Regions from separate parts of the Homo sapiens genome. Here all the other regions are linked to region 4. Evidence: fine-mapped QTL for protein levels in blood plasma. A gene starts in region 4. Each other region holds a variant in brackets. All regions are shown on one strand. Distances are from middle to middle.

The links. PIP is the posterior inclusion probability: the model's chance that the variant is causal. Protein levels are from antibody-based Olink assays in UK Biobank. Linkage for the fine-mapping came from a reference panel and not from the study's own genotypes, which makes the PIPs less certain.
Region 1: its variant is fine-mapped to the plasma level of the GALNT5 protein (UK Biobank, PIP above 0.99).
Region 2: its variant is fine-mapped to the plasma level of the GALNT5 protein (UK Biobank, PIP above 0.99).
Region 3: its variant is fine-mapped to the plasma level of the GALNT5 protein (UK Biobank, PIP above 0.99).
Region 5: its variant is fine-mapped to the plasma level of the GALNT5 protein (UK Biobank, PIP above 0.99).

The regions. Positions count from the first base shown.
Region 1 is chr2:157,169,443-157,174,550 of GRCh38, reverse strand. No RefSeq gene overlaps it. Among named protein-coding and RNA genes, the nearest start is that of GALNT5, 86 kb to the left of the region's middle. The variant A/T (reference allele first, on the strand shown) is at 1,978.
Region 2 is chr2:157,187,441-157,192,548 of GRCh38, reverse strand. No RefSeq gene overlaps it. Among named protein-coding and RNA genes, the nearest start is that of GALNT5, 68 kb to the left of the region's middle. The variant A/G (reference allele first, on the strand shown) is at 2,805.
Region 3 is chr2:157,152,848-157,157,955 of GRCh38, reverse strand. No RefSeq gene overlaps it. Among named protein-coding and RNA genes, the nearest start is that of GALNT5, 100 kb to the left of the region's middle. The variant A/G (reference allele first, on the strand shown) is at 2,161.
Region 4 is chr2:157,255,755-157,260,862 of GRCh38, reverse strand. GALNT5 (polypeptide N-acetylgalactosaminyltransferase 5) reads right to left here and starts at 3,158. Exons shown (of 10, transcript NM_014568.3): 1 at 1,327-3,158. The coding sequence starts at 2,780.
Region 5 is chr2:156,450,101-156,455,208 of GRCh38, reverse strand. The region is part of intron 1 of GPD2 (glycerol-3-phosphate dehydrogenase 2); the gene reads right to left. Among named protein-coding and RNA genes, the nearest start is that of GPD2, 16 kb to the right of the region's middle. The variant G/A (reference allele first, on the strand shown) is at 2,066.

The DNA.
Region 1 (5,108 bases), 86 kb after region 4:
CATTACCGGCCAAATCTGGCCTACAGATGTGTTTGTTTGGCTTATACAATGTTTACATTTGTCTGAATTAATTACCGATGTTTAAAAGTGGGAGACTTCACATAAGAATGAAGGTTTATGGCTTCTGTTGAATTTATGAAAGTTCTGGCAATTCTGGTTCCATGTGCTTCCTTAAAAATCATTGAAATTTAGCTAAGTAAGGACTGTACCCTTTTAGACTGGACCAAGTCTCTGGCTTGATCATTCCCACTTATTTTAGTTGCCAGCCTCTCCCTGTAGATTGTAGTTTGTTTTGTGATCTTGCTGTAGGTGGTGAAAGTGATTTTTAAAATATGGTTTATTTTTCTTGGAGGAAAATGAAATGATAACATTAACCTTTCACTTACTTTTCCTGGTGTAGACTTAAATATACTGTTGTCAGCAAAAGTCTATTTCCCCATTTTGACACCGGAGCTGAAATGCTCTTTAGAAATGTGAGTCTCAGAAAAGATTCTCAAAAAGGGGACACCGTCATGTTCTCTGCTTGCCTAATAGAGGGCTTTCTGATTTGGGATTGAGCAAGGATAAACAACCAGCCTTAGAAGCATGTCCCTAAAACAGCACAATTCCTTGACGTCAGATCAGGTTTTCAAGCCATTAGGTCCTTCGTTCAGTGAGTATTTAAGATCTTAACACATGAATCATTCATAGAGTGAAGGAAAGAGCCTGCGGAATGTCTTCCTCTGTGGCAGGCATATGGATGAGATGTGGTATTGGAGGGTGTCCAAAACTCAGATTTCCAGAGAGCTTGGCAAGAATATGGAGAGAGGGATTAAGAAGTAGGAGGTTGTTTTAAAGCTTAAAGCATCTGTGCCAGTGGGACAAAAACACCACTACCTTTACGTTTTCCGCCCCTAAACTAACGAAGTTCTGTGGTTGTTTATTCTAGAAAAATAGGCGTGCCTTCCTTTAGGGAAAAATCAAAAGGCAAAATTCTACATTTACAAAAAAAGAGAGATTGGGAATTTATGTCATAGAGTACTGTCCTTTATAGAAAGATCTTCTGCAGTTTTTTTTTCCCCCAGAAAATAGCCTTCCCTAGGACATTTGTGTTATTGTTGTAGTTATAAAGAATTATAAGCAGATGAGAAAACTAGGGTTTGAGAAGTTGCCAAGTGTTCGTAGCAATCTCTGTGAGACCCGGGTTGAACTGGTCCTGGTGTCCTGGGTTTATCTCATCCTAGAGAACACACTCAACACTGTGCCCTGTGCCTCTCAAACTGCCAGTGCACCTTGTTTTCACAAAATAGTGTCACCCAAACCACAGACCTGTAGCTAAGACTATGCATCCTGGTTCACGTGAAACTAAGTATCCTTTCTATATATTAAAGATCTTTTATTTAGAAGTAAAGGAAGAAGGTACTTGAGAATTATTAATAACAACATTTTGGCACCTTTGTTCACTGAATTGTGGGGAGGTACCCAAAATGAATAGCAGATGTGGGAAGGACAGTAACAATAAGGCTTCTGTAAATGGAAAAATCCACAATATCTTTCAAGCATTTTCCAGAAGACTGAACTTTTGTACACTCTTTGTTGTTTTAAAATGTGCTCATATTGCTTGGGTGTTTTATTCATAATGAGACAGGTCACATTCATGCCAATGTACATGTGTGTTTTGAAATCCAGTAAAATAAAGGAAAAAAAAAAAAGTAAGGTATGGTAAAATTTCACATAAAATAGGCTTTTGGCTTATATTTACCGCTGTAGTATCTTCTTTAAAGATCTTATGTGAAGGGAAAAACACCTTAATAATATGTAGTTCCTTTTAGTCATATAACCTATTTGATTGCTTCAGAAGTTTGAGGCGGCATGGGTTTATGTCGACCCTTAATAAAACCATGGTTTAGTAGACAAAATATACCTGGGTTGTTTATTTTTCAATTAAAAACAATATTCTTAATACTTATTTGAAAAATACTTGTTTGGTGAAGAGGT[A/T]GGTTAATGACTAATAATTCTTTTAGATATGGCCACAAAATGGTGAGCACTCATGTCTGTGGAGTAGGAGGTGAAGAAAGAACCAAACACATGAGGTGATGATGAATAATTCCTCATGAGCAACCAGCAGTAATCATTTCCACAGCCATATTTAAAGTGCTGCATTGTGTTTGTCCAAGATCCAACCATGGACAGTAGACAATTTGGTATGTTTAAATTTTGCTTTTTGACTCATGGAAATAAACAGTCAGCACCTCAATTCAAGAACAGAGGCTCTCCAGCAAAACCAACAGCACACCAGGAAGAGGTTTACCTGTCTATTTATTCATTGGGCTGAAAGTAAAAAGACTCTTACAATAAAGAAATCAAGTAAAGTTTTTCAGCAAATGATAAATATGGAATATTTAAAGGTTTCAATCAAGGCAAACATTGCAAATAGATGGCATTTGAGTTTGTAATATATTATTAAATAAAACCAGTTAACCTATTGATCAGCACAGATAACAGGATTTATCCCTTTGTTAGAATGCTATTACACATGTAAAATTGCATTAACTGTGCACTTAGGCATGTTTTCTTTATGTGGCATGAATGGTCCCAGTTTATCCAGGTGTCTTGTATGCATGCCCTTTCGTTGTACCCTTCACTGCCTCGGTGATTGCCCATGTGACTTGCTTGGACCAATGGTTGGTAGCAAACTTGAGACAAGTAGAGTCTTGAAATAGCACTTGTAGGTTTCTATTTTTTTTCTCCTCAATTTTGCCATGAGAACATGCTTAAGCTCACCTGCTGAATGATGAGAGACACATGGTCTAGTCACTTCTGTGACTATAGCCATCAGATATGCGAGTGAGCCCACCTGAGACCAGCCCAGCAGAATTCAACTTGATTTGCTGACTTGAAGGCTTGTAAGCTTAGTAAAGGCTATTTAAGACATTAAATTTTGCGGTACTTTTATCATGCAGCATTTATATGCAATAGAGAGGAATACTTTTACTGAGGCAAAGAAGAAAGACATTTAGAATAAAGATATCAAGAAAAATAGATGTAAATAACTATGTTATTGCAATTGATACATAAGAAAAAAATTTTAAGGTTTCAATCATGGAAAACATAGTAATTAGATGGCATCTGAATTCTAGTTATTGTTAAAAGAAAATGTGTAATTAGTTGACCAGTATAGATCTGTCAAATATTTCTTTCTTTAATTAGATAAGTTGTTACACATGTAAAATTGCCTGACTTGGGTACATATGCATGTTTTCTCTGATTGCCTTATAAATGTGGCATGAATGTGCTTATATGGTTAATGCTGTTCTTTTTATGTGTCTTTCTTCATTTTATGCTAGAGTTCTCAGCAATTGGATTGATGTCAAAATTGGAACATTTTCAAAATACTTGGGATAAAATCAAGGAGAAAGTGAGGTGAAAAAATCTGTAGAGGTAAAACAAGAAAAAAGGTTTTACATCAGAATATGTCTATCAGTGAACTCTTGTGATATGGATCTACCCAGATGGGCAAGTATCAGTCCTATTGAAATAGCAGCCTTCTTGAATAATTTCCACTCAGCATAGTACAAATTAATGAAGCCTTTTTTGAGAGCAATATGATATAAAATGAGTCATATCTTAGTCTTCTTGCAAATGTAAATTGTCAACTATGAGGCCCTTTGGAAATAGGTGGATGGCATGGAGTTTTATTTATATTGGTTTATATAAGTATACTTAAACTGAAGACATTTTGGAACTTTCTGATTCAGGGGTTGTATATTCTCCTTCTGCTGCTACAGCTGACCTGGTTGCAGAGACCTGGGTAAGCCATCCATTTTTCAATTTGGAAAAGATTTTGTGTATTACCCAGTTCAGCTCCACAGTAGAACAAGAGTCCCTTAAAAATAGACCTGTGGTCTTTGCTTGGCCATTTTCAGTTACTGACAACTCAAACTTCATGAGGCAGCCTAGTCATCCTTGTTTGTTGGAAGATTCTGTTGTTTATTCATAATCTGATCCTCCTCATTGCTGACCATAGAACAACATAAAGTGTGTCTGTTCTTCAACGTGACTGCACTGTCAATGGTCAAGATGACTCTTACACCCACAGCCCCAAGCCCTTTTAGTTTGCATCATGCAGTGAGATTTCAACACTCAGGATCATCACAGTCCCTCTTGCTGTGCACACTCTGTTTTAAAATATCCTTAAAGTTAATGAAAGCAAATAATTTAGGTATGTGTGATTACTGCAGAACTCTGGTACCACTTCTTCTCTTAATCCAGTCTCTCTATTTCCACTAATCCATCACTACTCCACAAATTGATTTAGCCATTTTTATCAGTTAGAATACAATAAGAAAATTGAAACTACCTTAGATATTTCCAACAGAGAAAATTCAATAGAAGGAATCAGTTACATAAGCAATAGACAAGTTGAGGAAATGGGGAAGCAACCTAGAGAATAGCCACACCCCAGAATGCTTCTGCCTCTGGAGAGCTGGAGGAACAAAAGTGGGTGGTGTAACAGAGCCTGAGATCTGAGTGGACCCAGTGGAAGGTAAACCACAGTGGGTCTTCCGGTAGAAGGTGAGATCATTAGGGGAGGGACTATCCAGCAGGACCCAGACGCATGGACCTGGAGCCGAGGAGGAAAAGTACCCACCACTGGGGATACCACCTGTAGGAGTAAGGAAAAAGAAGAGGGAAGAGAGGAACCTATAAAGGAAGGTAAAAAAGGGGAGCTAAAAAGCATAAAAACAACTAAGAGGCTGGGTATGTGGCTTACACCTGTGATCTCAGCACTTTGGGAGGCTAAGGTGGGAGGATCGCTTGAGTCCAGGAGTTTAATACCAGCATGGACAATGAAGTGAGACCCTGTCTCTACAAAAAATAAAAAAAATATCCAGGCCCAGTGGCATGCACCTGTAGTCCCAGCTACCCTGAAGGCTGAAGTGGGAAGACTGCTTGAGCTCAGGAGTTTAAGGCAGTGGTGAGCTGTGATCCTGTGATCATGACAATGCACTCCAGCCTGGGTGGCAGAGCGAGACCCCATATGTAAAAAAACAAAATAAAATAAAAATAACAAAATTAAAAACTAAGACAATGTGGTATTAGGGGAAAAAAGAATTTATCTTTTGAAA
Region 2 (5,108 bases), 68 kb after region 4:
TGCATCTATCTTGGTTAGCAATGCCTGCAGTGCATAAACTCCTTAGGGCTACATGGCAATGAGAGGGATGCCTTCATGCCTACTTGCTCGGGACTACTTGGCACACATTTCTGAGGTAAAAACAATTCATGCGACTTTGCCAAGTCTGCCATGCTCATTGTCCTGTCAAAATTTAGAAGGGAATATCTATCATGCTGTACAATACGTTTGATGGATATCATGATATATTTTTATGGGAAAGTGTACTGCACTCCTCCTCATAATCGTAAGAGGCATTTTGCTATGAGGGTGAGAGAGTGATTCTGAGGACTGTACCACCTAAACCTACATATTTAAGCTTTATGAGACTCCAGTGGGACTCTGAGCTAGAAAGCATCTGACCTAGTTGAATTTTTAATGCTTTTCGTAAAATGAAAGTCTGCATCATGATTCTACTTAACTGTGTTCTTTCTTCCTCAAATTACTTAAAGTGACCCATTTCGTAGTTGGCATAACTGAAGGATGCGTACTATGTAGGAAGGTATTGAATTACCTTCCTTGTCCATTTTAAAACGTGGAGGAGAATGCATTTCCAGGTAATGCTTCTTACCCATTGCTAACTTAGGTAGATTAACCAATTATCAGTCATTTAGTTCACAAGTATTTTTAACCTGACCAAAGGTAATAGTGTCAAAGGAAGAGGACAACAAACACCTAAGAAATCTCTCCTCTTGCCAAGAATTGGGATAAATGATAAGAAGCTGTCCTTGTGTTTTGATGCCACAGACAGGATTAAAATCATGCTGAACAAGGCAGGGTAATATGTTTAATCAATCCATTACTTGGGCACATCTGAGTATGGTATGAGGATTCAGTGTGAAGGAAAGAAAAAGCTGACCTGGAAGACTGGGTCTGAGTGTGGGATGCGGGGAGGACAGCTGGATATTCCCACAGGCAGGAAAATGCGATACTGATGGCTCATCACCTGACTGGGGCGTCTTTCAAGTTCTATGCAAAATGTAGCCACTGGTAGCTTTTAAATAATGAATTGTGGCCATTGACATCAATTCCAATGGCAATTTCTTCTAACATCTGACTAAGTTTGTCAGAGGATAATTATTTACCATTCTGATGAGTCCAGGCGGTCTGCTAATTAATTCTTCAATGGGATGCTTGCCATCCTTGTTGTTCCTTAATACTGCATGCTGAGGGTTGTGCATAAACAGGATTGGCACAGGGCCTACCATAATGATTATACAGGTTGAAAGCCTGGTGCCAAGTGTTGTTTAATTCAGTTTCCCTGAGGTCAAGGAGGGAGGACTTCTGCTGTGCCATGTATTTACAATTTTTGGAAAAAGAGTAGGTGAAAATGTCTACATTAGACAGTTTTAAATATTCCTATCTCAGTGAATATTGAAAACATAATTAGGACTAGGTGGAAATGTATTACAAATCTGAAAATTAGTGTTAAGTACATTAGACTGAGAAATTGGTAACATATTAATATTTTTAATCAGTAAATATAATCACAAGACAATTTATCTGTGATTCTTCCGAGGCAAGGACATAGGGATCAAGCAAATGAAGTGGAAGGTCATAACACCTGACTAATAATGAAAATAAATGAGAAATCAGGTTAACATTTTAGACAAGTCTTTCTTAAAAGATGGGACTGAGACAGATTAGACTTGCCTACTAGCACAGGACTAATTAAAATATGTTTAATTGATAAAGATTGTTGATTAGTTATGTTTTCTTGTAATCTCTGCTAGAAATCTCAGATCTGAAATTATACTATTCAGTTTCTATACACTGCTTTTTTTAAAAAAATAATTCCAACTTATAATTTTATGTTAAACTACATCGGGGGATGCCAGTTATGAGCAATATTTCACTTAGGACAGACACCCAATTAAGTTGACCTTGTCATTAAGAGAATCATGTGTTTCATTGCTGAATTTAAATCTTTGATAATCATTTTAATGGTACTTCAAAATGACCAGAAATCCCTAGCAATAGGGATTACAAATTCTCACATTTCCCCAGGCAAATATAGGACAAGACAGGCCACCTAGTCATGTTCCAAAAGGCTTTTTCCCTTCTGTATCAGATAAGTATTTATGGCAGACAAGCTACCTCTAGGCTTTATCGATGATGATAAACTGAGAAGGAATGACAGCTGAAGGAGAGAGGAAAAACACGAAGGCTAGCAGGAAACCTCTACTGGGGCATCAGTGTGCATCAGCAGTTCCACAAAGCATCCGCGGGAATGTAGGGGTGGGGAGGTCATGAGGAGTGTGTGAACTGACTCACTTAGCAACAATATAGTTTTAAAAATCCCAGGAATTTGAAGAAAGTGAAAGAACCCTTAAATCCCACATTGGATATTTTCTGAAAATTGATCTATAGTTTTATTCCAGATAGTTCATGGGCATTATTATCCTCCCATCTTTGGAATATCGTAATTTTTGAACATTACTAAGTTAAAACAAATATGGTCATGTAGTACTAGGACTCAAGCAGTGCCTGTCTTCCAGGGAACGCCAAGCCTTTTGCAGATGCTTTCTTCCTCTGCTATGCTCTCCCAAGACTAGGAAGACTCTAAAAACAGTTGTTGGGTTGTTTCCTAATTATCTTAGATGCCTACAAGAAGATTACTTTCTGCAACTATGATTTGTCTGAACTAACCTCATTTCCCATCCACTAAGGCAGAAGCTGAAACTTTCATTCTATTTCAACTCAAGAATAATTTAATATGTTATTTGTAGTTTCATCATTTTTTTTTTTTAAGTATGGTTCTGGTTTATTTTCTGAACAGACCTGAA[A/G]AGGAGGCAAGGTACAAGGCCTTTCAGTTCTCGGTTTTCATAGTAGGTGTATGGCAAATGGAGTTCTCACTGATGTGCTAATGTGGGCTTTTTGTGCTTCCCTCTTCCATAAGAACTACAGACACTGTGACCTATCTACTCTTTTTGATACGTATAATTTCTTTATGCTTGCTTTCCCAAACCAAATCAAAATCCTGTTTACACTGATGACTGGAAACTTGTATGTCTTAATCATACACTTCTTGAGAGAGACAGGCCAACAAGGCGCTTGGGAGGCATGCACACACGATTGCTATTTCTTCTTTCTCAACTAGACACTTTCAGGTGTTCCATACCCTTCTTAAAGTAACATCCTCCATCCATATTAATTAGCAAAATTGTCTCTGTTGACCACCCTCCAACATGCCCTATTAAAATTCCATTTCATAGGTGTCAATAGTGAAGGCAACACCGTTATCCTTACTCAATGTGCTTTTCTACATTTATATTTTTACTTGTGTGTTGTTGATTGAATCCTTAAGCGTCACACTACAGCACCAGTGGTCTCCAAACTGATTTTAATAATAAACTCCATAGCCAGTAAATCTTTTTGGCATGCGTTTGCCCTACAAACTGTGAATATTTGTTTACTAGATTATATGCATACAGGACTACACTACATATTTCTTTTATAATTATATAGTATATTAACAATTTAGTAATAAGACAGTAGTAGTAGTAACAATAAAGTGTATCAAAACTAGTATGCTTATGTAGACTACAGCAAACTAGTATCCAATATATTATAAAATACTATAATTTATTTACTTTGCATCACATACACAAAGGATGGGAAACAAGGAGTATGATATCATAAAGCCAATGTAAATATAAGTACAAGGCTAATTATTTTCCTTCCAAACCTAATTGACTGTCTTGTACAACACCCTGGGGTTCGTGCATCACCTTTGCCAAATGCTGTCATATTCTAGCAGAGAACATGAACGGAATTGTTATTACAACAAAAATATAATTTAAAATTATTTTATATCCATCTTTAGAACACATATTATGTAACTCACTGAATTATTCTTTGGCTTCACTTTGCAGTTCTTAATATAATAATAAAAGTAATTTGCATCTCCTGAAGGGGTATTTGCATGGTAGTGAACAGAATATCTTGAGTAGTTATGAAAAACTGGCCTGATATTTAAAATTTTCTCTGAATACACTAAAAAGTAAATAATAAACAAGTGGTTCTGTGACTTTATGGGGAAAAAAAGGAGATATAAAGACTAACACATCTTTTCAAGGTGCATGGAGAGAGACAAAGACCAAAGCAGGAACAGAAAATAGGTCCCCCGGCCTGTGTTCTGAAACAGTCACCTTGGTGGTACCTTGATACAGTAGTATTTGTAATTTCTACAATGAAAGAATACACTTTCATTCTTGTGCATGTATATAGTGATTTTTTAATAGTATGGTAAGGTCACTGGTAAAGTCACTAGTTGTAGCCTTCTATATAACTCTCATATGCCCTTAACTGTTCTCTTTTGGATAATCTTTCATTAAAAAATAGATAGTTAATAATGAGAATACATATTTGTTTTTTAGTTGGAGTTTTCAGATTTCTTAATTGGCACAGAATTTTAATCAGTCTGGTAAGTTAATGTTGACTGATAGTCTCTTTTTTAATATTGCCTATATCTTGAGCAGGTATACATTGCCTTCTAAATATCATTGCAGAAGGCTCTTTATCTTGTTAATTCATGTTCCTAAAAAACAGTTCTTTGGTTTTTACTATCTTATTTTACAAATATAGTTGATTCTCTTGAGAATTTGTTGAAAACTATGGACTTTCTCCCTGTGAAAATGCACATATTTACAAAATGACACTAGGTTAAGGCCTTTATTCTAGTATGATTATAGTATTAAACAACTTTCACACCCCTCAGTTCATAGGAAAATTATTTTTAATAAAGTTTTTTTATAAAATAAAACTTATTATTTTGCTGTAAACTTTATATGCAGAATTGTAGATGTGCTGCAGAGATAACAGTTTAAAACAGCAAAATAAGGAAACAGTGAGGAGGGGAGTTAAATAAGGGGCAGCCTTTCCCTATCATGACTGACTATTTTTTTTTTTTTTGAGATGGAGTCTCACTATTGTCACCCAGGCTGGAGTGTAGTGGCGCAATCTCGGCTCCCTGCAACCTCTGCTTCCCAGGTTCAAGCAATTCTCCTGCCTCAGCCTCCCAAGTAGCTGGGATTACAGGCGCCCGTCACCACACCCAGCTAATTTTTATATTTGTTTCAGTAGAGACG
Region 3 (5,108 bases), 100 kb after region 4:
CCTTCTGGACTCAGTATTTAGGAGTGAGTTTTAAACAGTATTGTTGGAGTACTTTATTTGAATTTTGTTTATAATTTTACAATTTTAAAAAATTGTGTTTGGAAGTATATGCTGAACAATTTCTGCTTTGGAGAATTTATTTCCAATTTCTTCATGTCCTTGAGAATTGCCACTTTTTAAAGGAGTCCATGTGCATTTTCTCTCTGGAAAATGTGAATTTTAATATACCTTGAATTCTCCAGGTCCTTATTCATTTGTGTTGAATTGATTTGACATGGCTTGGTGTAATGCATTGAGGTTTCATACTATGATTATGATTTTGTTAAAAATTATTTATATGAGTTTTTCTCCTTTGTGTTGTTCTTTGTTACTTGGCACATACATTTGATAATGAATATAATTTCTTTTAGATTGCTTCTTTTATAAAGACAATATAATCCTCTTTGCATTGTTCATAGTTTTTATTTTGAATTTTACCTTGGCTGATGTGAATATTGCCACTTCTGCTGTCTTTTTGTTTGCATTTTACAGATATGTCTTTGCCTATCCTTTATTTATAACCTTTCCAAGTCATCTTGTTTTAAGTTTGTCTCTTGTAAACAGCATATTGTTGGATGTTGTTTTCTACTCCAATCTAAGAGTCTTTGCCTTTTAATTGGGGAGTTCAACACATTTACATACATTGTCATAACTGATATGTTTGGTCCTGCTTCTGTCATCTTGTTTTATGGATTCTATTTTCTGTGCTTCCTTGCCATTTTCTATGTTTCCTCTCTTGATATTTGGACCATATTTTGTTTGCTTTTATCTTTTGAAGGGATTTAAAAGAGAGAGCTTTAAAAGAGAGAGTTTTAAATTCTACCAATTATATCTTTAAGTTTATCTTGTATACATTTAAACCAATATTTCTCTAATTAGGATATTTAAGAGCAAAATAGTATCTTTGGTCTCGTTTTGACATACCATGCTTTTATTTTTCCTCTTTCCCTGTGCCAACTCTTAGTTCATAACGTGTAGTCTTCTCTTGTCTTCTTTTTCAGTAACAATTTTCAATAGGAAGTTGAAAATGGGTCTATGAAATACTTCTGGCATATCATCAACCCTTTCATTTTTCTTGATAAGCATCTTCTCACTTTGTAACACTGGAGGAAATTAAGAAAGGTATTGAGATCAAAGCTATGTCTACTCAAGTTAAAAACAAATTTGGTGAAATGTGTCACTAAAGTCCAGCTATGCTATCCTTATTTCAGTTCTCAGGCACGCTAATCGTTTTTTAATCACTATGTCTTTGACCAAGGCTTGATATTTTTCTTTCAGTCTCCCTTAAATATCACATCCTCAGAAACACCTTCCTCAACTAACTGAACAAGAGTGAATCTCAATACCCCATTCTTTTTTTTCTTAGCTTTCTATTTTCCTTCATAACATCTATCACAATGTTAATTATATGTTAACTCATTTATTTGCTTGTTTAATGTGTATGCACTTGATCAGATGATGAGCTCCAAAAGTACAAAGACCATGTCTGTTTAATTTACCACAGTGTATCCTAGGCCTACCACAGTGAGTGCTTACTATATAACTGATAAATAAATGAATGAATTGATGACAAAGTGTGGCAGTTTAAAACTGCTATACTATTCTATATTTTAAAAAAAGTCTCTGCTTAAGCCAAATAGCACCAACTCTTGCTCTCATCTAGTACAGTACTTTAAGCACCCTGTATTAAGCAATCCTTACCCTCAAGTATTTTTTTTGAAATCAGATAGTTCACAAACACATTTTAGCACTGGGCTCAACAACTGTAATGCTATATATACACCCATTAATTCCTACCACGAATATGCTATTTATTCATGGCTGCTGTGGATCTGCCATCTCAGAGATATCCTGAGGGTACCATCACATTTGTTGGACACTAAGGTCTCTTTCATGGCTCTGCTTGTTAGTGGTGGCAGAGATTCGAGTTTCCCTGAATTACCAGCAGCGTGTCTGTATGGGTCCATAGCAACTTCAGTCCTTGCCTCCTGAGGAGAAAGAATTGGACTGAGGGGCATAAAGCAGAAAAAGAGACCAAGGCAAGTTTCAGAGCAGGAGTAGAAGTTTATTTAAAAGGCTTTAGAACAGGAAAGAAAGAAAAATTTGCTAGGAAGAGACCCA[A/G]GCGGGCGCCTGAAGGTCCAAGAGAGAAAAGAGAGCAAAAACAAAAGAAGACAGCAAAAAACGGAGCCTTTAACCTTGATCCTAGGACTTTATAGGCTTTGCTCTTTCCCATGATTGTTGTTTTAGGGTGGGCTTTCTACATGTGCAGTGTCCTCCTTACCCTTGGGAACTGAGCATGACCAGTGTGTTTAGGGAGTTATATGCATGTCCATCTGAGGCTTTTCTTCCCTTTTCCGGTGTAGTGTGCCCCTAGAAGATCATACTTCGCTATTTTTGTCTGTTAACACACATGCCCAAAAAGTTGCTTCTCCCTGGGGCCTGCATTCAGTTAACATTTTTAATGTTAACCGGTGTGGACCATCAAGAGATTGTCTCTCCTTGGCTGCCGAATTATTATTTTTGGAGAGGCAATGTGATAATTGCCAAACCATCATTTGACATTCCTAGTGGGTGCGGGGAGAGCTCTCCCTTGCCCTGCTCGTTATCTACCTATCTGTAACATGCTGGTTGTTGATGTTAAAATACTGGAGCCCATTTTGTAGAATTCTACTATGTTTTTCTCTTTCTTTTCTCCTTCCTTCCCACCCCCCTTCTCTCTTTCTGTCTTTCTTTCTTTCTGTCTTTCTGATGGAGTCTCGCTCTGTTGCCCAGACTGGAGTGCAATGGTGCGATCTTGGCTCACTGCAACCTCTGCCTCCTGGGATCAAGTGATTCTCTTGCCTCAGCCTCCTGAGTAGCTGGGATTACAGGCACATGCCACCATGCCTGACTAATTTTGTATCTTTAGTAGAGATGGGGTTTTGCCATGTTGGCCAGGCTGGTCTCGAACTCCTGGCCTTAAGCAATCTGCCTGCCTCAGCCTCCCAAAGTGCTGTGATTATAGGCATGGGCCACCGTGCCTGGCCTCTACTATGTTTTTCAATGCAGCGAGAAGAATGTGTATATTTTCTAGTCTGTGATAAGCTTGTCATGGACCAGGCAGCAATGTTATGGTTGCCCTAGGTGCCTCAGGTCCTTTGTGAAAATAGTTCGTTGTCTTTACGTGTAAGAACAGCTCAGGTGCCATTCAATGGGGTTGAGTGTGGAGTAGAGACCATTCTGACCTTTCCACTTATCTCTATCTGTGGACTAAATACAGCAAAACATCCTCTCCTTTAGTTACAGGAATGTCAACTACAATCTGTCTTCCTCCCCTATTTATCAATTTTGCTCAGATATGAGAGTTGGGCTTAGGATAAGATCTTTATTATATACTTAAGAGACAATAATTGATGCTATACTTTATTATAGTTAGACATTTACGTAAGTTATCCTAGATTTCCCCTGAAAAGATTGTTTTATTCTCCCCTGAGAAGCAACTTCATTCTAAGGGTTAGCTAAAAGGAAATAGAAATTTTATGGTTTACGACAATGAATAAGATTCTAATAAAGACAGTTGACTGATAAGCAAAAAACTGAAATCACCAAATCTTTCCATCTAGGCCAGTGTAAAACTCAGTCTTTGGCTTCTGATGAGTCTACCATGATACTGACAACCTACCAGCTGAAGAGAAGTCTCTACATGGACTGTGCAAAAGAGATTCAGAGGCGTCTACTGAATTTCAACCATAAATTGTCTAGTATAAAGGAAGATAAGTGTCCCTGCTGAAGAAGAATGGAAACATAATGGAATCAATTCGGTGTGTCTGTGGAAAGAACTTATTTCTCCATTCCCCCAGGATCCAGGCAAGTGGCAATTCTCTTATCTATGCTAAATAGTCGAAGGCATCCTCACCACTTACTCAGAATAATCCTTTTTTAATAGCAGAGAAGTCTCATCCAGAAAAGTGTTGTAAGAAAATATATTGTGGGAGCCAGGATTCTCTTCGGGGCATAGAGAATTTTGTAACAGTGAAGGGAATTTTATCATCTTTCTCTTGAAAACAATTCCTTTACTGTCTCTTGGGCATATTGATGACCACATAATAGTTATAAAGTTCCCTATTTCCTTTCCAAAAGGGAAAATGGGATAATCAGTAGAAGATAGGGGATGACAAAAAGACACATAGGTGGCCTCCTTTGATATGATGGGCCGGTTAAAGGGTAAATTGTTGTGGGGTATTAAACACCACCATCCATGATGAGGAGAATTAACAAGGGAATTCCCATGCAGTAAGATAATGAAGACCTGGGAGTGTAGAGAGCATTTGGTCAAACTTCTTTCATTATGCAGATGAAGGAACAGGGTCCCAGAAAAGAAAACTGTAAGTCACATAATTAATTACTAGCGGAATCAACATCAGAATTAAGGTTTCATCACCTCTTGCATAATCCTCCTGAAACTAGGTACAAATTGAAATCATTTACAAAATATGCATCTCTCTGAGTAATTATGACACTGTGTTTTAATTGTGTACTGTTGAGTTTATCTTCTTAAAGAAACTGTTGATTTCTGTAGGGAGGGGCTTATAAACATCTTTGTATTTCTTGGATATAGCACAGTGTCTGATACATATGTAATATTCAATGCTAATTATATATGGGAAAGAATGAATAAGTAAATGGAGTTCTTTGCAATCAAGATGATCATTTTTCTTTCTTTTTTCTAAGTTTTGAAATTTTCTGACCTGTAGTTTTATTCCTTTTGAAATGAAAAACAACTCTAAAGAGTAATAACAAATGTAGCCAGGTCTGTGTTGTACATAGATAGGTTTATGTGATGTTTCTTTGTGTCACTGACTCTCAATTATCTCCTCATATATTTGAGACTTATTCATTTTAGAGAAGAAAAGGGAGGCCTCTTTGATTTATAGGTAAGCTTGCTGCTTTATTCTTTTGGTATCCTCAGTCAATTATTTCATCTCATTTTGAATGTAATGAAGATTCATTTAACAACCTATAAGGGCCTAATATGAGAGTCTAAGTTTCTTTGATAACCCCAAGGAAGTGCTCTTGTTTGTTCCCTTAGG
Region 4 (5,108 bases):
ATGGCACAGTGCTTGGTATAAGCAGTGCATGGCTGATAGCTGTTTGCTGATGGCTAAGAGATGGAAAACGACCTGGTTGTAGCCGACATCACAATGAAGAGACTCTTCTTTCTAATGTGGATAAAGCTTCTCCTGTATCTGCCTTCCTCCTAGTAACACTGACTAAAATGTAATGCTGACTACCTAGATCACAAAGAAGAATTTTCTACAGAAGCCAAACAAGGCCATTGTTTACATGCCACATGTGCTAAGTCTCAATCTTGACATTCCCCAATCCAACTTCCTGGCAAATATTGTTTGACTTAGGGAACTGAGTTAACAGATATTGAACATACGGCTGTTGAGTACCTTCACTTATCAGTGGGCCAAGAAAAAAAATGCCAGGAACCCAATTATATTTGAATCAGATTAAATATCTATGTTTTGATCCACATCTGGTGATATAGTTATAGGAATTTAACTTTTTGAAGGACTGGTTACTGAAGGCCCATTGGGCAGCTTTAGAACTGCATTACCTTGAGAAAGTGTTGTAACTTCTGAGCGCCCTCGCCAGCTTGTTAATTTGAACCATAATGACTGCCTCCTCCTTTGCAGGGCTCATATGGAGTTCATCTATGTGTATGCAGGCTCTTTGTAAATAGTGAATGTCTACAAATATAAGTGATTATTATTATGCTTTTTATACCTCCTGTAGGTGTTTGCTGGTCATGGACTGATTGACTTTTTCCAACATTATGATTCCTATGTAACTGATCTCCTGAAATATCTACCATCTCCACCTATAAAGGAGATTAAATTTTAGGGAGTAAAGTCACTTCTCTTGCTATCCTGCTTATCATTACTTATGATTAGGCAGAATTCTGCTGGTTAAGATATGATTCCAGGGAGGCCTAGAAGAGTCCTTCTGTGTGCTTCTTTCCCAAATATATTCCTGACAAACTTGCTAATAATGAAAAGTTCCAAAATTGGGAATTCACTTCATTGTCACTATTCTAATGGAATTACACTTTAAGCTCTACCATTTATATACACGTTATTATGAACTGAGTTCATCTAATCATTTTAATAGGTTTTCAACAGAGGGAAGAAAATTGAACATGAGCTAATGGTAGGGACCAAAGTCTCAGAGAACAAGAACTCTGCAACTGCTAATAAGAGAATTTTTGTCTCTGTAGCTGGTGAAATATTTGAATGATATCCAATGATTAATGTTTCTTTAATTCTCTAGGTGACCAAAAATCACACAGAATTATCTAGCAATAAATCCTCTTTACATAACAGCCAAAGCACTTGGGGTTGAGGAAAGAGAAGAGAAATAGGTCTTACCCAGCAGGTCTGGTGTCTTCAATGGCTCTATCCACTGGGATCAAATCGCTAAGGTAGACATTGAAGTTTCCTTCTTTCCATCTTCTTTCTGCCTCCTTCTCCTTTCCATGGGGGACAACTACAGGACGCCCAAACTGCCCTGGAGCTTTGGGGTCCCTTGGAGAAAGTGTCACATCAATTCTTAACACCTGGTGCGTTCCACTGTCTTCAGGTAAAAGGGCTTTTATATGACTCTGGTTGTATTCTGTAGAGGGGGCTTTGGCAGTTATGTTGATTTTTGCTGGCTCTAGCCCTCCAGTTAAAGCATGGTTAGTTTGGGACAGTGGCACTCTATGTGGAGCAAGTGAAGAGGAAGACATCTCACTTCTATTCCTGGAAATGTGTTTACTTTGGCTTTTACCCAATACTTTAGGAAATATTGTTTTGGTTTTAGAATTAGAGACCTCTTTGGGGTCTGCCTTTTGCTCTTCCTCTTTGGTTATAATCACAAGATGGCTTTCAGAGAAATTGAGTTTCTTCCCATGAGCCCCTCTAGCTCCATCATCCTTTGACAAACTTCCCAAAGGTGTCTCATTAATAGATTGCTTCCTTAAGCGATTTGAATTGACAGTGAACTTAGGAAAAGGAAGACTCGTATTGGCTTTGTGTTTATTTGCATTGACTTCTTTGCTCTGAGTCTTAGTTTTGTTTAAGGCCATGGCTTCCCCAGACTTCGGCACTGCTGTGCTGGCAGGGTGTGCCCTCTCGTTTGCTACTGCCTGTGATCGCTGCTTTGGTCTATCAGTACTAAGACTGATGGTCACATTCAAGTCCCTTTCAGCTGCTAGTTTTGATGTGTCACTGCTGGGACTATGACTCTTCCGGGGCTCCTGTTTTAAACTGACACGTCCCATGTGTACTGATATTTTGACTACCTGAGTTCCTTTTGCTGCTATGAATGAGGTCTTTGGAGCCCCCTGAGCTGTCGTTTGCTTTGGTGTCCCCTGGTGAGAGGAGGCTTCAGGTTTGGTGCCTCTCCCGTCTGTCTTCTGCTTGTTAGGAGTCACAGGGAGGGTCTGCAGATGTGCAGGATGCCACAACGGCACAACCTTGCCCCTTCCCAGGGCATTCTGCATTTTTCTTTCCCTCTGGGTTTGGTCCAAGTCCACCTCAACCTTGAGCACACTCTCCTCAGTTTTTCTAACATTCTCTTTGCCCCATGCCCCTTTCCCATGTCCCCTTAGGGGAGGTTTCATCTCTTTTATGCTGCTGTAAAAAATTTTTCCTTGGTCTGGCTGAACTCTGAATCCTATCCGCTCCCTCCTCACAATGTCTTCCTTGATGACCCGAGTGTTGATCTCACTGAATGAGAGGCGGAGAGCTGCCATGTCAAAGAGGAGCCAGATGACAGAAGCTACAAAGATAAATGCCAAGACTCGCCCACTTCCTCGGAAAAACTTTCGGATCCTGTTCATGGTACAAAGCTTTCCCTAGCAGCCTGCCCTCCCTTAGCCTGCTTACCTTGAGTGGAGAGGAAGCTGAAGTAGCAGCAGCAGCAGCAGCAGCAGCAGAGTTGCCAGAAAGTGACCCCCTCCCCTGAACACAGCAGGAAGCAGCAGTCCAAGGGGAAAGCTCAGTTCCTACCGCTTGTCAGTCTCTGCCTGCGTGGCATTTCATAGCAGAGCATCTGTGCCTGCTTGGCTGGCCCTGGCTAAGTTCTGATAAACACTGGCCTTAGGTCACTCCAGGAGCAGTTGATTCCAGCCACCGAACAGTTCAACATATCACTTGTCTTGTCTCCGGGAGCCCATGTCCACCTTCCTACAAGCCCAAGAAAAGGTGGGGGCCAGATTGAGACTGCCGTTTCTCTCCTCCCCGTTCTCCGTCTGCACGCTGTAACTCAACACCACTTCTCATAAGGAAAACATTTCATGCCATTACCCAGAAAACTTCATTCAGCTCTCACCTTCTGTGTTATGTGAGAGCATGTGTGTTTAAACGGCAATTAAAGAGGAAAAAAAGCTATCTAACTTGGAGGGCATGTGTTCCTGGTTTGTGACCCCACCTACCCTACTCCTGCTCATTAACCCTGTTGTAGCCAGGTGCCAATGCTCTGCCTGAGGAATTTATCACTGAAGTTAACATTTCAGCTTTAAGACATAACAGCTTAAAGAAGGGGCCTGGTATATCCTCACTTCCAGAGATGTATATGTTTAATTATTTAGATCATTCATTCAAGGGGTTTCAATGTATTTCTTTGTAAGCCAACTATTTTTTTTTCACTAATCCATCTGTTTTTATTATTACATTTGATTACAAATAAACTTAATTTGTCATACTGCTATAAAAGTTTCTAAACACTTTGTTATGGTCTGAATGTTTATGTCCACCCAAAATTCATATGTTGAAACCTAATCATAAATGTGATAGTATTAGGAGGTAGGGCTTTTGAAGGTGATTTCATTATAAGGATAGAGCCCTCATGAATGGGATCAGCACCCTTAAAAAAGAGGCCCTATTGCCTTGCCATTCCACAAAGTGAAGACATAATGAGAAGGTGCCATCTATGAACCAGGAAATGGGCCTTCACCAGTCAACGAATCTGCTGGTGCCTTGATTTCTGACTTCTCAGTCTCTAGAACTGTGAGAAATAAGTTTCTGTTGTTTATGAGTCACTTAGTCTATGTTATTCTTCTATAGTAGCCTGAACAGATTAAGATACACTTACTCTCAGTTTCAGTACTTATCTCGTCTTAAACCAGCAAGCAACAGTTTCAGGACCACACCAGGACTTGGACCAGATTTTGAGTGATGCTGGTTGACTGGTAGGGTAGCAGTTCCGCCACAGGCTTTTCATTAGAACCACTTGAAACAAGATCCCCAAAACTCTGGTCAATTGATGAGAGAGGAGGTGGAGATGACATTTGGGCTGATATTGTATTAAATATATATATATATATATATATATATATATATATATATATATATTTTTTTTTTTTTTTTTTTTTTTACAAAGCTTCCCAGGTCTTTCAAATGTGCAGCTAAAGTTGAGAAACACTGGTCTAGAAAAAAAGTCTCAATTTTTTGTTTGTTTGTTTTTGGTTTTTGAACATTGCCTATGAGACATTTAATTTTAGGTGTCTACTTGACTGGGCTAAGGAACACCCAGAGAACCAGTAAAGCATTATTTTTAGGTATATCTGTGAGGGTGTTTCCAGAAGAGATTGGCATTTGACTCAGTGCACTGAGTGGGGAGGAGATGCCCTCACCCAATGTGGGCAGGCACCACTAATTGGTTGAGGGCCCAGATAGAAAAAAAGGCAGAGGAAAGGTGGATTCTGTCTCTGTTAGTGAGCTGGGACATCTTTCTTCTTCTGCCTTTGGACTAGAACTTTAGATTCTCTGGCTTTGGCCTCTGGGGCTTGTACCAGTCTGCCCCCACAACCTCCACATCCCTCACTAGGTTCTCAGGCTTTTGACCTCAGACTGAGAGTGATGTTATTGGCTTCCCTGGTTCTCAGGCCTTTGGACTCAGAATGTGCCATGTTACTGGCTTTCCTGGTTCTCCAGCTTGCAGGTGGCCTGGACTGAGGTTTCTCAGTCTCCATAACCACATGAGCCAATTCCTGTAATAAACTGCAACTCACTTATCTACCTCTATGAATCCTATTGGTTCTGTTTCTCTGAAAAATCCTGGCCAATACAGTCTACAACTTGTGTGACATTCCTTCCCTGTCTAAAGTACAGTCTAATAAAATCTATGCATTCCCATAACAACTAAATCAGAATACACATTTTGACAT
Region 5 (5,108 bases), 810 kb after region 4:
AAGACTGGATTCAGGGCAGTCAGGAGACTGGACGCAACTCCTGAGAGTCCATACTAAGACAACCACAGTCATTACAGAGGGGACAGCACGAAGTCCAAATCCATTTTGGAGGGAGAATTGCTAAGATGACTGCTCCCTGGGAGCAGCAGTCCTTAGTCCTTCAAACAGAAGACCCCTCCCTCTCCCCCAGGGTTACACCACCATCATGGCTGAGAAGAGGCCCTAAGAGCACCTCATGCTATCAGCCACTGAAGGGCAGCTGGTCCCCAAGGAGGCCTTTATACTCCAACTGGCCACTACGTCTTCAGGAGATGACCTAGGCTACAGACACACTAAGAAGGCTTTTGCTCACCCCTGGCCACTAAGCAACAGGAGCTGCCACATGGTACCTACCCAATTTCCCCCAAGACATCACCAGGACTAACCCTAGCATGCTCCACAGCCCTCTTTTCCTCAGTCATCACCAGAAGACCAATCTTCCCCATCTCTCACCTTCCCAGGCCTCCCTCCCTCCCACTCTGCCCTCTGGTACTTAAACTCTATCCCCAGCAAATTCCATTAAATTCTCTTCTCTGAGTGTTCCTTTCACCAAACTAAACCTTGAAAACATAAAGAAAGTAAGATTTAACCTGAATTTCAGATGCTGAACACTAATAACACTATTTTCCCATATCATATAAAGAGAAGCTTGGTTATATTATCACTTTTTTTTTTTCATAGAGATAGGGTCTCACTATGTTGCCCTGGCTGGTATAGAACTCCTGGCCTCAAGTAATCCTCCCATTTGGCCTACCAAAGCACTGAGATTACAGGCCTGAGACACCACACATGGCCCTATATTCTCATACTTAGGTCTAGTTTCAGCCAGTATAAACAAGGATGGCTATGGCAGTTGCTAAAGTATCAAAATACCTCTCAACCAGTTGACAACTAGCTATGATCAAGAGATTAAAGAGTTAACATCTAGCTTCACAAAAGGCCCCCAGAACCCTGCTCCTGATGGAACACCGACATCAGCAGGTTACCATTTCACATGAGTTGTCAAACACTTTGAGTAACGACTCTGTTCATAACCCCAAGATCCCCTAACCTAGAGGTGGATTAAGTGTCTCTCCAGCTCACCTTCCAATTTCTCTTCTATCCTCTTTCAAAAGTCTTACCTGTCTGAAGTTTATGCCATTAGACTTTACCACCCATTATCCCTTCTCGCTGTCATCTACCCAACTACTGCTATTTCCCCTTATTTGCTGATGACCTTCATACCTATTTCCCTTTCCAGACTCATCTGTCTTCATCATTGCAGTTTTCTTTTTTGTTTTGTTTTTTGTTTTTGAGACAGAGTCTCACTCTGTCACCCAGGCTGCAGTGAAGTGGCGTGATCTCAGCTCACTGCAACCTCCACCTCCCGGGTTCAAGCGATTCTCCTGCCTCAGCCTCCCAAGTAGCTGGGATCACAGGCATGTGCCACCATGCCCAGCTAATTTTTGTATCTTTAGTAGAGCCATGGTTTTGCCATGTTAGCCAGGCTGGTCTCAAACTCCTGACCTCAGGTGATCCACCCGCCTCAGCCTCCCGAAGTGCTGGGATTACAGGCCCGGCCATCATTGCTGTTTTCTACAACTACATGAAGGCTCCAATTCCTCAACCACCTCACCTCTGATGACCTTTGTTTGACCCTACCTCATTATCATAACCTCTGATTTGGGCATCCCCACTATTTATATCAACTCCGCAGACTCCAGCCTCAAGCACCCTACACTGTAAACACCACCTTCTCTTTCTTCAGTTTATCTACTGTAGTCTGGAATTTCCATTCCACCATCTTGGCATTATCTGGCCCTTCAGTCCATTGACCCTACTATTTGCTTCACTATCAGTCACTTCTCCTGCTGCCTAGCTGAGAATTAAATTAGGTCCATCACTGTAATTTCTCCCTTCCAAGCACCCTTAACTCCCTTGCTCCTCTCTTCATGCTTCATTTTTACTTGGCAAACCCCCAAACCAGTTAAACCCAACTATCTGCCTGTTTCACATCTCCACCCAAACAGCTGAAGAAACTGCCTGG[G/A]AAAAAAAACATGCAACCACAACTGGCCTCAATTTAAATTCATAGCTGCAAATCATTAATGTGCAATCCACACTGACCCACAATCCTATTACATTTCCCCAGGATGTTTCAAAATAGCCATTTGAAATCTCTTTTCCCAAACCTGTTTCACCCCTCCACACCCCAATATCATCACACTTCACTGGGAAAGTAAAGTAGATGCAACTAGGTAAAAATTTCATCTTCCCACCACCCAAATGATGACTTATCCACCTCTGTACTCATTCTCTCTGCAGTCCTTCCTTTTACTAATAAAATGTGCCTGTTTCAAGTAAAGACCAATCATTCTATTTGTACACTAGATCCCCTTCCTTCCTGGCTCTTCAGAAATTTTATTTGTACAATTACCCACCACTCTCTCCTACCTTCATCAGCTCCTCTTCTCTACTTAATCATTTTGTCAGCATAGAAATTCACTGTATTATCCTCTAGTTCTAACAAACCCTCCCTTGACCAATATCCTCTTCCAAGAACTTTTCCACGTCTCTGCTTTCCTTCATAATGAAACTTCTTGAAAGAGTTCTCCCTCTCCCCTCTCCCCTCTCCCCACGGTCTCCCTCTCCCTCTCTTTCCATGGTCTCCCTCTGATGCCGAGCCGAAGCTGGACTGTACTGCTGCCATCTCGGCTCACTGCAACCTCCCTGCCTGATTCTCCTGCCTCAGCCTGCGATTGCAGGTGCGCGCCGCCGCGCCTGACTGGTTTTTGTATTTTTTTGGTGGAGACGGGGTTTTGCTGTGTTGGCCGGGCTGGTCTCCAGCTCCTAACCGCGAGTGATCCGCCAGCCTCGGCCTCCAGAGGTGCCGGGATTGCAGACGGAGTCTGGTTCACTCAGTGCTCAATGGTGCCCAGGCTGGAGTGAGGTGGCGTGATCTCGGCTCGCTACAACCTCCACCTCCCAGCCGCCTGCCTTGGCCTCCCAAAGTGCCAGGAGTGCAGCCTCTGCCCGGCCGCCACCCAGTCTGGGAAGTGAGGAGCGTCTCTGCCTGGCCACCCATCGTCTGGGACGTGAGGAGCCCCTCTGCCTGGCTGCCCAGTCTGGAAAGTGAGGAGCGTCTCTGCCCGGCCGCCATCCCATCTAGGAAGAGAGAAGCATCTCTGCCCGGCCGCCCATCGTCTGAGATGTGGGGAGCGCCTCTGCCCCGCCGCCCCGTCTGGGATGTGAGGAGCGCCTCTGCCCGGCCGCGACCCCGTCTGGGAGGTGAGGAGCGTCTCTGCCCGGCCGCCCCGTCTGAGAAGTGAGGAGACCCTCCGCCCATCTGAGAAGTGAGGAGCCCCTCCGCCTGGCAGCCACCCCGTCTGGGAAGTGAGGAGTGTCTCCGCCCGGCAGCCACCCTGTCTGGGAGGGAGGTGGGGGGGTCAGCCCCCCGCCCGGCCAGCCGCCCCGTCCGGGAGGGAGGTGGGGGGGTCAGCCCCCCGCCCTGCCAGCTGCCCCGTCCGGGAGGTGAGGGGCGCCTCTGCCCAGCCGCCCCTACTGGGAAGTGAGGAGCCCCTCTGCCGGGCCAGCCGCCCTGTCCGGGAAGGAGGTGGGGGGGTCAGACCCCCGCCCGGCCAGCCGCCCCGTCTGGGAGGGAGGTGGGGGGGTCAGCCCCCCCGCTCGGCCAGCCGCCCCTTCCGGGAGGGAGGTGGGGGGGTCAGCCCCCCGCCCGGCCAGCCGCCCCGTCCGGGAGGGAGGTGGGGGGGTCAGCCCCCCGCCCTGCCAGCTGCCCCGTCCGGGAGGTGAGGGGCGCCTCTGCCCAGCCGCCCCTACTGGGAAGTGAGGAGCACCCCCGCCCGGCCAGCCGCCCTGTCCGGAAAGGAGGTGGGGGGGTCAGCCCCCCGCCCTGCCAGCTGCCCCGTCCGGGAGGTGAGGGGCGCCTCTGCCCGGCCACCCCTACTGGGAGGTGAGGAGCCCCTCTGCCCGGCCACCACCCCGTCTGGGAGGTGTGCCCAGCAGCTCATTGAGAACGGGCCATGATGACAATGGCGGTTTTGTGGAATAGAACGGGGGGAAAGGTGGGGAAAAGATTGAGAAATCGGATGGTTGCCGTGTCTGTGTAGAAAGAAGTAGACATGGGAGACTTTTCATTTTGTTCTGTACTAAGAAAAATTCTTCTGCCTTGGGATCCTGTTGATCTGTGACCTTACCCCCAACCCTGTGCTCTCTGAAACATGTGCTGTGTCCACTCAGGGTTAAATGGATTAAGGGCGGTGCAAGATGTGCTTTGTTAAACAGATGCTTGAAGGCAGCATGCTCGTTAAGAGTCATCACCACTCCCTAATCTCAAGTACCCAGGGACACAAACACTGCGGAAGGCCGCAGGGTCCTCTGCCTAGGAAAACCAGAGACCTTTGTTCACTTGTTTATCTGCTGACCTTCCCTCCACTATTGTCCTGTGACCCTGCCAAATCCCCCTCTGCGAGAAACACCCAAGAATGAGCAATAAAAAAAAAAAAAAAAAGAGTTGTCTATAAGAACTGTCTCCACTTCCACAATTTAATCCAATAAACTTTGTCCCAGCCTCTTCTTAAACTATATGTCAAATTGTCAAAATCACAAATGACCTCATTTCACCAAATGTAATCTCTATAATTAACATAGTAGAACCGTCTCTTTTTTAATATCTTTTGAATTCTTAGCCTCAGAGACACCACGCTCTTCTGCTTTCCATCCCATCCCACTGGCAACTCCTCCTTCTCTTCTATATAATAGTTGCTCAATGGCCTGCTTCTCTCTATATACATTCTCTGTAGGTAACTCCATCCAGTATCAAATATAACCTATATGCAAATAATTCCTAAGTCTGTATCCTCAGCCAAACCCCTCTCAGAATCTCCAAACCCCATTCACCCAGTTGTCTGACATCTCCAAAGGAATATCTAATAATCACTTCAAACTTAGCCAAAGCAGAACACTTTATATCTTCCATCAAGTCTGCCTCTCTCCCAGCTCTCCCCTTCTCAGTAAGTGGACCAGCTCTCAAATAGAAAATGCAAGCCTTTCTTTTATTCTTCTTCCTTTCCTCC